Homo sapiens: one gene and its partner. The protein of the gene in region 1 purifies or fractionates together with the protein of each later gene. This does not show direct contact. Each region holds a gene or a part of one and is shown on either strand. Other genes may lie near its edges.

What was found. The genes of interacting proteins can lie anywhere in the genome.
Region 2: the proteins of LUC7L2 (region 1) and NCBP3 purify together in Homo sapiens (co-immunoprecipitation; 5 studies listed by BioGRID and IntAct, with this or other methods). This does not show direct contact.

Annotation. Positions count from the first base shown.
Region 1 is NC_000007.14:139,362,890-139,369,910, reverse strand, and holds part of LUC7L2 (putative RNA-binding protein Luc7-like 2), read right to left. Parts: intron 1-7,021. UniProt on the Homo sapiens protein: May bind to RNA via its Arg/Ser-rich domain.
Region 2 is NC_000017.11:3,843,242-3,850,252, forward strand, and holds the start of NCBP3 (nuclear cap-binding protein subunit 3), read right to left. Parts: upstream 3,006-7,011; 5' UTR 2,983-3,005; coding exon 2,800-2,982; intron 1-2,799. UniProt on the Homo sapiens protein: Associates with NCBP1/CBP80 to form an alternative cap-binding complex (CBC) which plays a key role in mRNA export. NCBP3 serves as adapter protein linking the capped RNAs (m7GpppG-capped RNA) to NCBP1/CBP80.

The DNA.
Region 1 (7,021 bases):
AAGGGTGCTATACAGCTCAGAAAAGCTATCCTTCTTAATCTTCTGGTTCATATGGTCCCATAAGTTTATAATCAGAAATAGGTACCAGTATCACCCCCCACCATAATCCCCATGACAAGCCAAACATTTTTAAAATGTGATGCCCACTGTAGAAGAAATCTCCAGAACAAGTTCATTCTTGCTGGATATGATCAAAGATTAATGTTTTTAAAATGTTAAAAATCTGGCCCACTTGTCTGTGAAAATCCATATCACAAGATTATAAGAATGAAACTGGGGAACAGCCTTGTTAGTAGAAGAAAAACCTTGTAGGATCTTTTGAAGCTAACCAGAATGGTGATGATGAAAATGTGAGAACAGGAATACTAAAGAATCTCCATTCCAAGGCTCTATTCCATGCCCTGCACCTATCTTCTCTCATTATATTAATACAAGCAAAGGGTCTTGGTAGCTGGCAGGGACCAATGCTATCATGTTTTGGGGGGTATGTGCTTTAGGAAATCTATCAGCCTATTCCTCTTCTTAAATTTACAAGAGACATCAGAAAAGCCTGAATAGTTACTTTAACATTAAGTCCTAAAATAGGTTATATAGAATTTATTTTAAGATATATGGCATAAAAAGTTACAGCCTGCTAAATTTTATATTTTGATACTTACTTGCAGAGCTGTAATTCTGACATAGTAACAATTGCACTCTGGATAGCCGGTGCCTTCTATCATCCAGAACTTTCTATATACAAAATTAGAAGTAACGAAAGCTATCTTTGGCTATCAAGCAATAGCTGAAAATAATCAAAGAAAAAGTAACTGGCTGATTTATCTATTAAAAAAGACAAGTTCTCATCAGCTGGTGATAGCTACAGAAGCCAACTAGAGCCTCCCCAAATCCAAAGGAAAAGAAATAAAAAAGAAAAAAAAAGATGAAAATATCAAGGGACAGAGGTGATAGACAACCCAATGATAAAGGAAGAAGTTAAAATGAAAAACAGATCACCATGAAGGAGACGTGAGCCTTAAAACTAAACAACACAGCAGAAATACTGCCTCACAGTGAATATGCAACAAATTTACAAAAAGGGTTGCCTCTGGGGAAAGGACTGAGACGGTGAAGGGGACCACAAAAGACTTTATTTGTAATGCTTTATGCACTTTTTACTTTTTTTTTTTTTTTGAGACGGTGTCTCACTCTGTCGCCCAGGCTGGAGTGCATTGGCACCATGTGGGCTCACAGCAACCTCCGTCTCCTGGGTTCAAACAATTCTCCAACCTCAGCCTCCCGGGTGGCTGGGATTACAGGCACCCACCACCACATCTGGCTAATTTTTATATTTTTAGTAGAGACAGGTTTCACCATGTTGGCCAGGCTGGTCTTGAACTCCTGACCTCAGGTGATCCACCCACCTTGGCCTCCCAAAGTGCTGGGATTACAGGCGTGAGCCACAGTGCCCGGCCTCTTTATCCATTTTTTAAAATTTGACAGAAATATACGAAATAACATTTGTTCAATCATACAGATGCTTGTTTGACCTCTGTACTTTTTAAAACATTTTTTTAAATGCAGACACCTATAATCACTATCACAGAACTTATTACTTAAAAATAAACATTCAAGTGTAATTCTTCATTCCCATTAGATTTTTGGTCAAAAGATGACAGAAGCAAATTATGTCTATAATCTCTAAGAAAAGGAAATAAAGATATAACTAAAGCAACTCTGCAACCTGGGTATCAATCTATTGCTATAAATAATTACTATACCCTAAAGCACATCAACCAATAAATATACAGAACACCATGTGCAGGGAAGCACTCCCTCTAACACAATGGAGTAAATTAAATTGTAACAGGAAGTTTTCAAAATATTTATACATGGTGTCCAGACTCACGTGAATCGACTGCTTAGTCCTAGCAACATGCCCTGCCGCTCTGCTCCCGTCCATAATGCAGGCTCACAGCCACTTTCCCTAGCATTTCTATCAGGCCTCTCTTTGATAAGCAGCTTTTCCCACAGCCAGGTACCTCTTCACATTCCCACTGTGGAACCAGTTGGTGAAATCCTGCAGAAACACTGACCCCCGTGGACCAAAGCACTAACGGAGAGGTGAGAAATTGAGCTAAATGAGGTAATTTCATCCTGGAGGTCTTGATGGACCTCTCTAGGGATCTCCTAGATCTCTCTGTCTCACAGGCTTGTATTTCTGTCCAGTCATTTCTGCTTACAGGCTTAGGTATATATATAGTTCAAACAGCTTTCCTTTCACATGAATACTCCCTGGAACAGTAATTTCCAAAGTATGAGATTTGCACAAAAGATGACTTTAGGTGTTACATGATTTTGCCAACAAGACATTTTAAATACCACTCAGTAAGGAAATTATTAATCACAATTAAGTCAAGAAAAAAAGTTCCCATTTTGCAACAGTACTTGTTTAATAAATTTAACAACTTCTAATTTTTAGCACAGGAACCCTAAGTGACAAGAGTCTAGTTACATAATACACCATTTTGTTTTCATTGTATTTATTTTTATGGTGGTATAAACTTTCATTTTAAAATTAACTTAAAATTTTTAGAAAGTGAGTTGACATAAAGGAAAATATTAAATAAACAGAAAACAGTAAATAATAATAAAGGCAAGGCCAGGCATGGTGGTTCACGCCTGTAATACCAGCACTTTGGGAGGCCAAGGCAGGTAGATCACTTGAGGTCAGGAGTTTGAGACCAGCCTGGCCAACATGGCAAAACCTCATCTCTACTAAAAATACAAAAATTAGCAGGGCATGACAGTGCATGCCTGTCATCTCAGCCACTCGGGAAGCTAGGGTAATCGCCTGAACTCGAGAGGCGGAGGTTGCAGTGAGCCAAGATCAGGCCACTGCATTTCACGCCTGGGAGACAGAGACTCTGTCTCCAAAAAATAAAAAATAAAAATAAATAATAATAAAGGCAATAAGTGTGACAAACATTTGGGAAACACTGATCTAGAAGAGGGTTTCTCAAACTTTTAATGTGTATCAGAATCACCTGGAAGGTTTCTAAAAACATGGATTGCTGGGGCCCATATCCAGAATTTCTGACTCAGTAGGTGGGTCCAAGAATTTATATTTCTAACAATACGACGTGATGCTGAGGTGATGCTGAATTGCTGCTCCAAGGACCACACTTGGTTTAGAATAACTAAACCAGAATGGTGATCAACAAGCTTTTGTTAGAGTCAAATGGTAAATGTTTTCGGTTTGCGGGCCATATGACTCTGTTGCAACCATTCAGCTCTGCTGTCGTAAGCCAAAGCAGCCATAGACATCATGTATATGAATCGGCATGGATGTGTTCCAATAAAACTTTATTTACCAAAAGCAGGAGGCCATAGTGCCAGTCCCTGATCTAAAACATACCTTCAAGTAACTTTAACTATTAAACTATTAAAGTTACTTTAAGAGAAAAGTCTACCATTTAAACTAATACTAGAGCACAGTACAGAACAGAACAGCCAGGTATATTATAGATACTATCCAATAATTATCAGTTAACTCTAAAAGAGAAAACTGGGGTCTGCAGAAATCTAAGGTATTAAGATTAAAAACAAAAACCATTTACCATATTCAGGAGACAAGATTCAGCAAGGGCAGCTGGTTAAATTCCTTTCATGTTGAGTCAAATAAGTCAAACATCAGTTGTACATGGTTCACAACTATACTGGAACATATGGGTCAATACTGAGTGCTTTTTGGAAAGAAGTTTTAAAGATTCTTTTCTATGCTAATAGCAAAATATGACATTTATTCAGCTGAATGGACTTCATGTTACTTTCTGACGGCTTTGACTTCTCAAAGTCCTAAGTTATTCAGTTCAAACAAAAACATGGAGCTGCAGATGATTTCAGAGTTTTCACAAATTAATTTCTCTATATCCTCAATAATCTTGCAAAACTGAACAACTGACCTATTTTGGCCCTGCCTTCCAATATCTATTCTAGCAGCTGCTAGTGCATGAGAACCTAAACAAAAAGGAAACAGAATAGCTTTTCTGCAAGTTTTGAATTCACAAGATTCCCTCTTCACTCCCTCATTCTTTTTCCAGTAAGATGTTCCAACTTCCTTCACCTTCTTATAGTTTCTTAGTAGATTAAGTTATGCCAAACTGCTTGTTTCCTCAAGAACTCTACATACTAACAGCAGTAGGCTTTAAGAATTCAGTCCTTTTCAAGCACCTTTCTGGAATTCCATCTTTGGGGAGTATCTGCCTCATTTAACTAGTCTTGCCCACTTATTGACCTTTAGTTTTAAACCATCTGCCTGTCTTCTCAACCCTCCTGCTTGCTGAACTCACAGCAACTTTAAGCTTCAATGCTTTGTATGAACCACCTGTTACTGAAGAGTACCTGATTCACTAAACCTGACCTTGATCCATGACACCTCATGGCCATTGAATTCCTACTACCCATCTTGAACACGTTGAACACTACCATCTATCCTTATATGACAACATCCAACCTAAACGAAAATAAAAGAATTTACTTGCTCCTTATAGAACTGATGCAGAAATAGACAAAATGATTTTTCTTTGTTTTGCTTATATTTACCTGAAGTAAAAGAATGTCTCAGAAGCATATGCTTACTTGAGGAGAACTAAACAACTGTAGAGAATCCAGGAACGATGCAATGTTATATGAAGTGATACTTTTATTGTTTTCTGGGCTGCTGTGTAGATAGAAATATTATTCAGAGTTCAAAATGCAAAATGAGGAAAACTTTTCTTTTTTCATTGATTCACTATGCAGGTGCTTTCAGTGTTTTGGATATGCCTGAAACTCTGATAAAGTTAAATAGTTAACTGAAACGCAGAGAAACTACTGTTTAATCCTATAAAACTCCTTATATTAAAGAATTTACAAGCTCTAGACTAAGAAATATCCTGTTATTATTTAAAAAATGTCTGCGTATACATTAAAGGCTCCGCCTCCTTCACTTAAAATGAACAATCCAAGTGGAATAAAAGAATGGCTCACAACTGACCAAGAAATGAATATGGTTCATTATGTTAATGAGAAAAAATTAAGAGAAAATGTTTTCAATGTTGATGAAAAGTCAAGGAACACAGATTACAGTAAAGATGATTTTATAAATAAAATCCATTAAAGAACGCACTACTTCAAACTTTGATTCAGTAATTTTGCAGAAAGGCAGAAATGTCATACTATCTTACAGATTACACGGTTATGTACTACTAACCTTACATTAGCAACAAGTAAATGGCTTTCTTAACAGTATTTTCCTGGGTATGAGGATGAGTATCCTTTCAGTTTTATATCCCACAAACTATAACTACTGTACAACTGATCAGCAAAAATATTATGATTAATATGTTAACTGAGGAAGTATATCCTACAATTTAGAAAGATTAACATTTAAAATAGTTAAAATTATTGAAAGTTTTAACTTGCCCGAAACAGTCCCTAACCATAAGGGACAATTAATGATGCTATAAAATTCTATCTAACATTCCTAGTCTACTTGTTGTTTTGGAGGGCAGGCTGCCATTCCTGCCTATTTTAATCTTTCGAAGGTGGTCTCTGCTCCCATTTAAAGGTATAAGCAATTAAGAGATACAGAACCCTCAGAACTACCTTCTATAACTTACCTAATTTCTAAGCTTAAAATGTAATCTAGGCTGGGCATGGTGGATCACCCGAGGTCAGGAGTTCGAGACCATCCTGGCCAACATGGAGAAACCCCATCTCTACTAAAAATACAAAAATTAGCCAGACGTAGTGGCAGCCACCTGTAATCCCAGCTACTCGGGAGGCTGAGGCAGGAGAATCACTCGAACCCAGGAGGTGGAGGTTGTAGCAGTGAGCCGAGATCGTGCCACTGCACTCCAGCCTGGGCAACAGAGACCCTGTCTCAAAAAAAAAAAAAAAAAAAAAAAAAAAGGATGTAATCTAAATCCACACCCTCAATTTTATTTAATTCTTATTGCTTGCATCTTCCCAGACTTTCCTGGGATCAAGACTAGAGACTTATGACCAAACTGTGTTTGTTGGCAAAGGGGCTTTAGCTAAGGAACATCCTTGCAATTAATCCAACTGAGCAAAAATCACAGTCTGTGTGAGGGTACTGGGTTCTTCCAACTGTCACACAGACAATTCTCAAACTGTTTCTTGGATTTTCCTGTGCAACTCCTCCCTGCTTTCAAATAGAATGAATATGTTCAGGGAAAACAAATTATCCCTCTCCCCTCTGCTAACAACTAAAACAGAAAGATATTTATAAAACGTAATGAATCATAAACAAGATAAAATAAACTAGTAATTACTATCTACTTATAGCTCCTTTCTAAAAAAACTTAAAATATATTTATTTTTCAACATTTCTGAGTATAACATAGGAAATTATTTGGTTTCCCATATAACAAATTACAGATTTAACTTGAGGCAAAAAAGGTTAAGTGACTTACCCAAGGTTACAATTAGAGGTACAGCTGGGGCTAGAAACCAGGTCTCCTGAGTCTCAGCCCAGTGCTCTTTTCCTTAGCCCATGATGCCTTATCAGAAAAATCCAAATACAGTCAGACCCCCAGTTATATGGGTATGAGTTACACTGATTCACATATACAAACTTTATATAGTGTGACCAATGTTTCAACTCACGCGGTACCCTGCTTCCATTTATGCAGTATGCCAGGCATCGGCACGATTTTCAGTGGCACACAGGCGGTTGCCACCACCAGGGCCCTAGGCAAAATTGCAAAGAAGGCAGAGTTTGTCTTTGGCCCTCCCACCTCCCTTATGCATTTCTCTCCCACCTCCTGGCAGTCCCCCTGCCCAGCCTCCCGGCACCATCATGCTGCCCTCAGATTGTCTAAAGCCCCCAACTTCCACCACTCACCCAGGAATGTCCTTTCTTGAAGTGCCCAGTGATCCAAAATTACCTCTCCATTTCCCTGCTAACAAAATTCCTACTCCTAAGGATTCCAGTGAAGTTTAGGTAATCTAAATGATTAACTACTTTATGTAATTC
Region 2 (7,011 bases), on another chromosome or scaffold:
CCTTTTTTTTTTTTTTTTGTTGGTGACAGTGTCTTGCTCTGTTGCCCAGGCCGGAGTGCAGTAGAATGATCACAGCTCACCGCAGCCTCGACTCCCCAGGCTCACGCCATCCTCCCCCTCAGCTGGGCCCTCAGGCATATGCCACCATGCCCAGCTAATTTTTTTTTTATTTTGTAGAGACAGGGTCTCCCTATGTTGCCCAGGCTGGTCACCAACTCCTGGGCTAAAGCAGTCCTCCTGCCTCAGTCTCCCAAAGTGTTAGGATCACATGTGTGAGTCATCACAACCAGTCTGGTTCTTTCTGTTTTTCTGTTTGTTTTTTGAGATGGAGTCTCACTCTTATCGCCTAGGCGGGAGTGCAGTGGCACAAACTCGGCTCACTGCAACCTCTACCTCCTGGGTTCAAGCGATTCTCCTGTCTCAGCCTCCTGAGTAGCTGGGATTACAGGCATGTGCCACCACCGCCAGCTAATTTTTTTATTTTTAGTAGAGACGAGGTTTCACCATGTTGGCATACTGGTCTCAAACTCCTGACCTCGGTGATCCGTCTGTCTCAGCCTCCCAAAGTGCTGGGATACAGGCATGAGCCACCACACCTGGCAAGTCTGGTTCTTTTTGAATAGCCACTCTTTTCAAAACCCTTCCCCACCCCTGACAACCTTTTATTAAGAAGCCCCATCCTAGTGATTCCATGGTATCAATCAACCACTCCAATAAGAAGATCAGAGCCTGTCCAAAAACTGAAGTGATTCCATCAACTCCAAGTATCCATGTAAAGAAAATCTAAAGGCTTTTGTGGAAAATGTCAAAAGATAAGGCACAGTCACTTAGCTCCCCAACCCAGTCTGAACGAATTCCTCATGCCCAGCCACCAGGTGGAGCACAACCCTCCACCTCAACGCAGAAGGTCCAGCCTCACCTAGAACTCCTGAGGCAAATACAGCACAGTGCAATGCAAAGGGGATGGGATTTGGAAACCAAGCGAGGACTGAAGCCTCAGCTCTGACAGTCACTAATTACAGGACACTGTATAGTTTTCTTGACCTCTCTGGGTCTCAGTTTCCTCTGTGGTATCTACCTGCCTTCCTGACCTCTTTTACTGCCCTTCCATTAGTACTACAGAAGTTTCCAACAATCCTGGACCCATCCCAGAGCCTCTGTGCTTGTTACTGGCCCTGCTGGGGGAACTCCTTTTCAATCTTCACAAGATTGGCTTTTTGTCATTTAGAGTTTATATGGAACATAAACTCCAGGAGGGAGGTTGAGCTTGATCAAGCACCTAGGGCTGTGCCTTGGTACATAGCGGGGGATGCAATAAATACATGTTGGCCGGACGCAATGGCTCAGGCCTGTAATCCCAGCACTTTGGGAGGCAGAGGCGGGCGGATCACCTGAGGTCAGGTGTTCGAGACCAGCCTGGCCAACATGGAGAAACCCCGTCTCTACTAAAAATACAAAATTAGCCGGGCACGGTGGCACATCCCTGTAATCTCAACTACTTGGGAGGCTGAGGCAGAAGAGTAGCTTGAACCCAGGAGGCGGAGGTTGCGGTGAGCCAAGATCAGGCCATTGTACTTGGCTACTCAGGAGGCTGAGGCAGGAGAATGGCTTGAACCCGGGAGGCGGAAGTTGCGGTGAGCCGAGATCGCGCCATTGCGTTCCAGCCTGGGCAACAAGAGCGAACTCCGTCTCAAAACAAAACAAAACAAAAACCATGTTGAACTGAATGACTAAAGGGATGATAACACCTGCTTCACAACTGCAGTAATATTTATTTATTTTGGTTTTGTTTTTGAGATGGGGAGAGGGGAAAGGGGGGACCTCAAAGGGGTCTTGCTATATTGCTGAGGCTGGTCTGGAACTTAGACTCCTGAATAGCTGGCACTAAAGGCGTGCACGGCCAGTATATTTAAGTGACACAATATAGTGAATGGTAAATGCTACTATATTAGCTGTTGTTAATCATAATTATAACGTTTGCCATCTCTAGCGATCATACTTTAACCTTTCTCCATAACTTCAGTCTAAATATGTTGACATGTGGTCAAAAGTAATTCATGTTAGGTGAGAAATTAAGAGGAGTCATCCAGGCCTGAAACCAGCTCTGAGAACTGGATATACAGCCACCAAGTCACAAGCAAAACACCTCTCACCATCCCCAGCGCGGTAAAGGAGGGACCAAGGATGTCTATTGGTCGTCTGCTAGTTTGCTTTCATTAAGAGTCAGATGCTGGGGCCACGGTGTAGGTGTCACTGGAGCTGCGGGGGGGGCAAGATGACCCCGAAGTCACGACAGAAACAGTGAGTTTCTGCTGCTGACAAGTGCAGCCCTCTCAAGACAAAGAGCGAGTGCCATGTTTCCCAGATACAAATTCCTCCGGGGCAAGACCCACAAGGAGACCTGGTTGCTGGCGCCACCCAACAGCTCCTTCTGGGCTGCCCCTGGTTCTGTTCCCGCCCAGGGCTCCCCCTTTATCTCATCCTTCCAGCCCCTCCTCACTCACCTCCTTGCACAGCGCGGCTCAGAGGGGGCAGCGGAGGGGGGTCCTCAACTCCCTCCCAGCTCTCCGCCACCACCCCCCAGCCCCCTCAACACCCATTTCCGGCGCCCCGGCGTCCTTTCTCCCGCTCCGCGTCCCTCCTCCAGCCCGGCGTTCCCGTTCCCAGGACGCTGGCTCCCTCCTCTCCCGCTCCCTTGACTTCCCCGGCTGGGGCTCCGGCCACCGCCCCTTCCGGCCCCCTCCGGCGCTAGACACTAGCCCCGCGACCTCTTCCTTACCCCCCGACCCCCGCCCGTACCGGGATCAGTTCCTTGAGCGAGCGCCGCACAGGCACGATTTCCAGCTCGCCCTCCTCCACCTCCATGGGCTCCGGCTCGCCACGGTCAACACCGGACTCCGCCTCAGGGGACGGGAGCCCCAGGGCCGGCCCCGCCGGGGCCTCCGCCTTCACCGACACCCGCAGGCCCCGTACGGCCGCCATCGCTGCCTGCCGGCCGCACCACTGAGAGCCCGCCCCTCACGGCCGCCGGCTAGAGCGCCGCTGCCACTGGCCACAGAGGAGCCGCCGCAGCTACCTAGAGCGTCGCCGGCTTCGGCCCAGAAGGCCGCCCTTAGCGCCGCCGCCCCCTGGTGGCGGGAGAAAACCGGGCCGGCTGCGCGGGCGGGACCTGGGGAGGAGAAGGCGGGACTGAGCGGGGACGGGGGCGGGGCCTGCGGGAACTACGGAGCTTGGAGGAGACCGGGGTAGTCAAGGGTTACAATGTAGCTACGCCTTGAGGCTAAAGCTGTACTAAAAGCCAACTTTCCTGAGTGATCACTATGGGCCAGACACTTCCAAGCGCTCGAACCCTTAGAACAACTCTATGAAGTAGATCCTATTTTGACCCCCATTTCATATATGAGGAAACTGAGGCATAGAAATTGACCCAAGGTGACGCCATTTAAGGGATAAAAGCTGGATCTAAGTCTTCCAGAGTTTACAATGAGCCTTGATATATCACCTCTGGACAATCTGTAGGTTTATAAAGTTACTTGCCTTGCCAGTCTTTGTCTCTTAAAAGTCTCCCCAAAATTGGCCCATGTTACATACACAAAAATTGAGACTCCAAGAGGGAGAGACCTGCCCAAAGGCCAGAACTTGGACGCCGATTTCCTGACTCCTGAGGGTGCCATCCACTGTAGACCTGTGAGCATAGTTTCCGGCGGATATTTCTAACGAGAGCCTGGTGGGGGAGAGGGGTTGTCTACGCGTCCCGAGGGTGTCACTGATCAGCTGCTGTTCTGAGTCCTGATTTTCTTTTTCTTTCTTTCTTTCTTTCTTTATTCCTTTCTTCCTTCCTTTCTTTCTTCTTTTCTTTCTTTCTCTTTTCCTTCCTTCCTCCCTCTCCTCTTTCTTTCTTTCTTTCTTTTTTTTTTTTTTTTTTGTAGAGACAGGGTTTCACCATGTTGACTAAGCTGGTCTCGAATTCCTAACCTCAAGCGATCCACCCGCCTCGGCCTCCCAAAGTCTTGGGATTACAGGCATGAGCCACCGCGCCCGGCCTGAGTCCTGATTTTGCATCTTCCTCCCTGGGTAACCTTGGACAGGTTTTTGGGTCTGTTTTCCCATCTGAGGAGGGCATAGGTGAGACCCTACAGTCTCTGAGGCCCTGAGGCCCTACCAGCTCTGACCATGGAGGAGCAAATAATGATAAACCAAGGAAGAGCATGGTCAGCATCAGACACACCTGGGTTTCGAGCTGGCTGGCCGGGCCCCATCCACCATGTGTGACCTTAGGCAAGCTGCTTAGCACTTTGGAGTCTCAGTTCCTTCATCAGTAAAATGGACCATTACCTACCTACAAAGGAGGTTGTGAGGGTTAAATGTGATAATTTATATGTAGATACAGGGTCCAACAGAAGGGGTGCAGTACATCACAGTTTTTCTTAAATTTGGGCTAAACCACAGGATAAACACAAGACAGAGCTCTTTAGAGGACTAGTTTTATTTGATGAATGGGACACAAAGTACTTTTAAAAATTGGGTTGAGGCCGGGCACGGTGGCTCATGCCTGTAATCCCAACACTTTGGGAGGCCAAGGCGGGCAGATCATGAGGTCAGGAGATCGAGATCATCCTGGCTAACATGGTGAAACCGTGTCTCTACTAAAAAAAAAAAATTAGCCGGGCATGGTGGCATGCACTACTTGGGAGGCTGAGGCAGGAGAATCACTTGAACCCGGGAGGTGGAGGTTGCAGTGAGCCGAGATCATACCACTGCACTCCAGCCTGGGCGACAGAGCGAGACTCCGTCTCCAAAAAAAAAAAAAAAAAATGGGTTGAATGCATACATAGAATATGTACGGGTGTGTGTGTGTGTGTGTGTTTAATTTCAAACAAAATGTGTAGTTGGGGTGGCCAGCTATAGGTAAGAGTCACAGCCCCCACCATTACTAGGCCTGTGGGGTTAGGGGATGGGAGAGGAGGAAGTAATCCCTCCTCAGCTATGGACACCAGGAGGCCAGTAGAGAAGGCTGGGCAGGCCCCTCACCCTGCTGGGGAGGATGCCTTGTTGCTTGAGGACGCAATTCGGTGAGGATTCAGTGTTGCAGTTCAGTGCCATCCAGAAGAGCCCCAGCACCCTGGCACACCAGCCGGCAGGTACATGAGGAGTCCAGGACAAGCCGGGACATCAGGCAAACACCAAGGCTCCTAGGCGCGTGTCAGGAAAGCCCTCTGTGCCTTGCTCTTTGTGGTCACCTTAGTCACCATCTCCCATCCCCTTTCCTGTTCGCGATGCAGCCTGCTGAGTTGGAGACACAGAGAATTTAGGAAGGTGGTAAGGGCTGATTTTCAAAAAGTTGAAAAACATGACTCTCAAACAGATGTAAAATGAACACATGTCAAAGCTGTTACCCAGTCATTAGAAAATGAGGAAACCAGTAGAAATATGAAGAATAGTTTGAAGGGGAACTTGAATGAATATGTGGTTGGTCAGTCAAAGGAATGCTGAGATGAATTTGACAAGGCAAGTTAATGTCCTGTAAGGCAAGAAACGATAACCTCCAGGACTCCCTTTACCACCAGACAGAAAACATTTGCATTACTACTGGACAAGAATTATTTACTTGTTATAAATTTTCTTTTTTTTCTTTTTTTGAGATGGAGTCTCGCTCTGTCACCCAGGCTGGGGTGCAGTGGTGTGATCTCGGCTCACTGCAAGCTCTGCCTCCCGGGTTCACGCCATTCTCCTGCCTCAGCCTCCCGAGTAGCTGGGACTACAGGTGCCCACCACCACGCCCGGCTACTTTTTTGTATTTTTAGTAGAGACGGGGTTTCACCGTGTTAGCCAGGATGGTCTCGATCTCCTGACCTCGTGATCTGCCCGCCTCGGCCTCCCAAAGTGCTGGGATTACAGGCGTGAGCCACCACGCCCGGCCAAATTTTCTTTTTTCTTTTTTTTTTTTCTTTTTTTGAGATGGAGTCTCGCTCTGTCACCCAGGCTGGAGTGCAGTGGCACGATCTCGGCTCACTGCAACCTCCGCCTCCTGGGTTCACGCCATTCTCCTGCCTCAGCCTCCTGAGTAACTGGGACTACAGGCGCCTGCCACCATGCCCAGCTAATTTTTTGTATTTTTTTTAGTAGAGACGGGGTTTCACCGTGTTAGCCAGGTTGGTCTCGATCTCCTGACCTTGTGATCCACCTGCTTCAGCCTCCCAAAGTGCTGGGATTACAGGCGTGAGCCACTGCACCCAGCCACCTGTTATGAATTTTCTATAAACCTCTACTCTCAGTTGTAAAATACCCTAATCAATAGTGCATAAGAAGTCAGACAAAGCTATACATCTGTAGAGAATCAGATGGTTCCCCAGGCAGATAACACCTGGCACAGTACCAACAGGGCATTTTCCTTTTTCTGTTTCCAAAGTCTGGATATATATTTTTTTTAGATGGGAGTCTCACTCTGTTGCCAAGGCTGGAGTGCAGTGGCACGAGCTTGGCTCACTGCAACCTCCCCCTCCCAGGTTTTAAGCAGTTCTCTGCCTCAGCCTCCCGAGTAGCTGGGATTACAGGCACGTGCCACTATGCCTGGCGACTTTCTGTATTTTTAGTAGAGACGGGGTTTCACCATCTTGGCCAGGTTGGTCTTGAACTCCTGACCTTGTGATTCACCTGCCTCAGCATCCCAAAGTGCTGGGATTACAGGCGTGAGCCACTGCGCCCGGCAAAAATTTTTAATTAATAGAGAAAATCAGGGGAATGGGACATTGGGACAGACTGGAGAGAGAGTTTTAAGAAGGGAGTGATCAAGTGTCATGTTCTGCCATAAGTTCACGATGGAACTTGTTTTGGGTCTAGAGGTTTGCTGGCCATTGGTGACTTTGAGGAGAGCAGAGTCCATGAAGGGGAAGGCACATTAGTGGGGAGATTTGAGCCAGTGTACACAACTCTCAGGAGAAGTAGGCTAGAGGGCAGGGAGGATATTAACAGGCTCTTCTAAAGGGTTCCTTTTCTGTGATTTCTTTCATT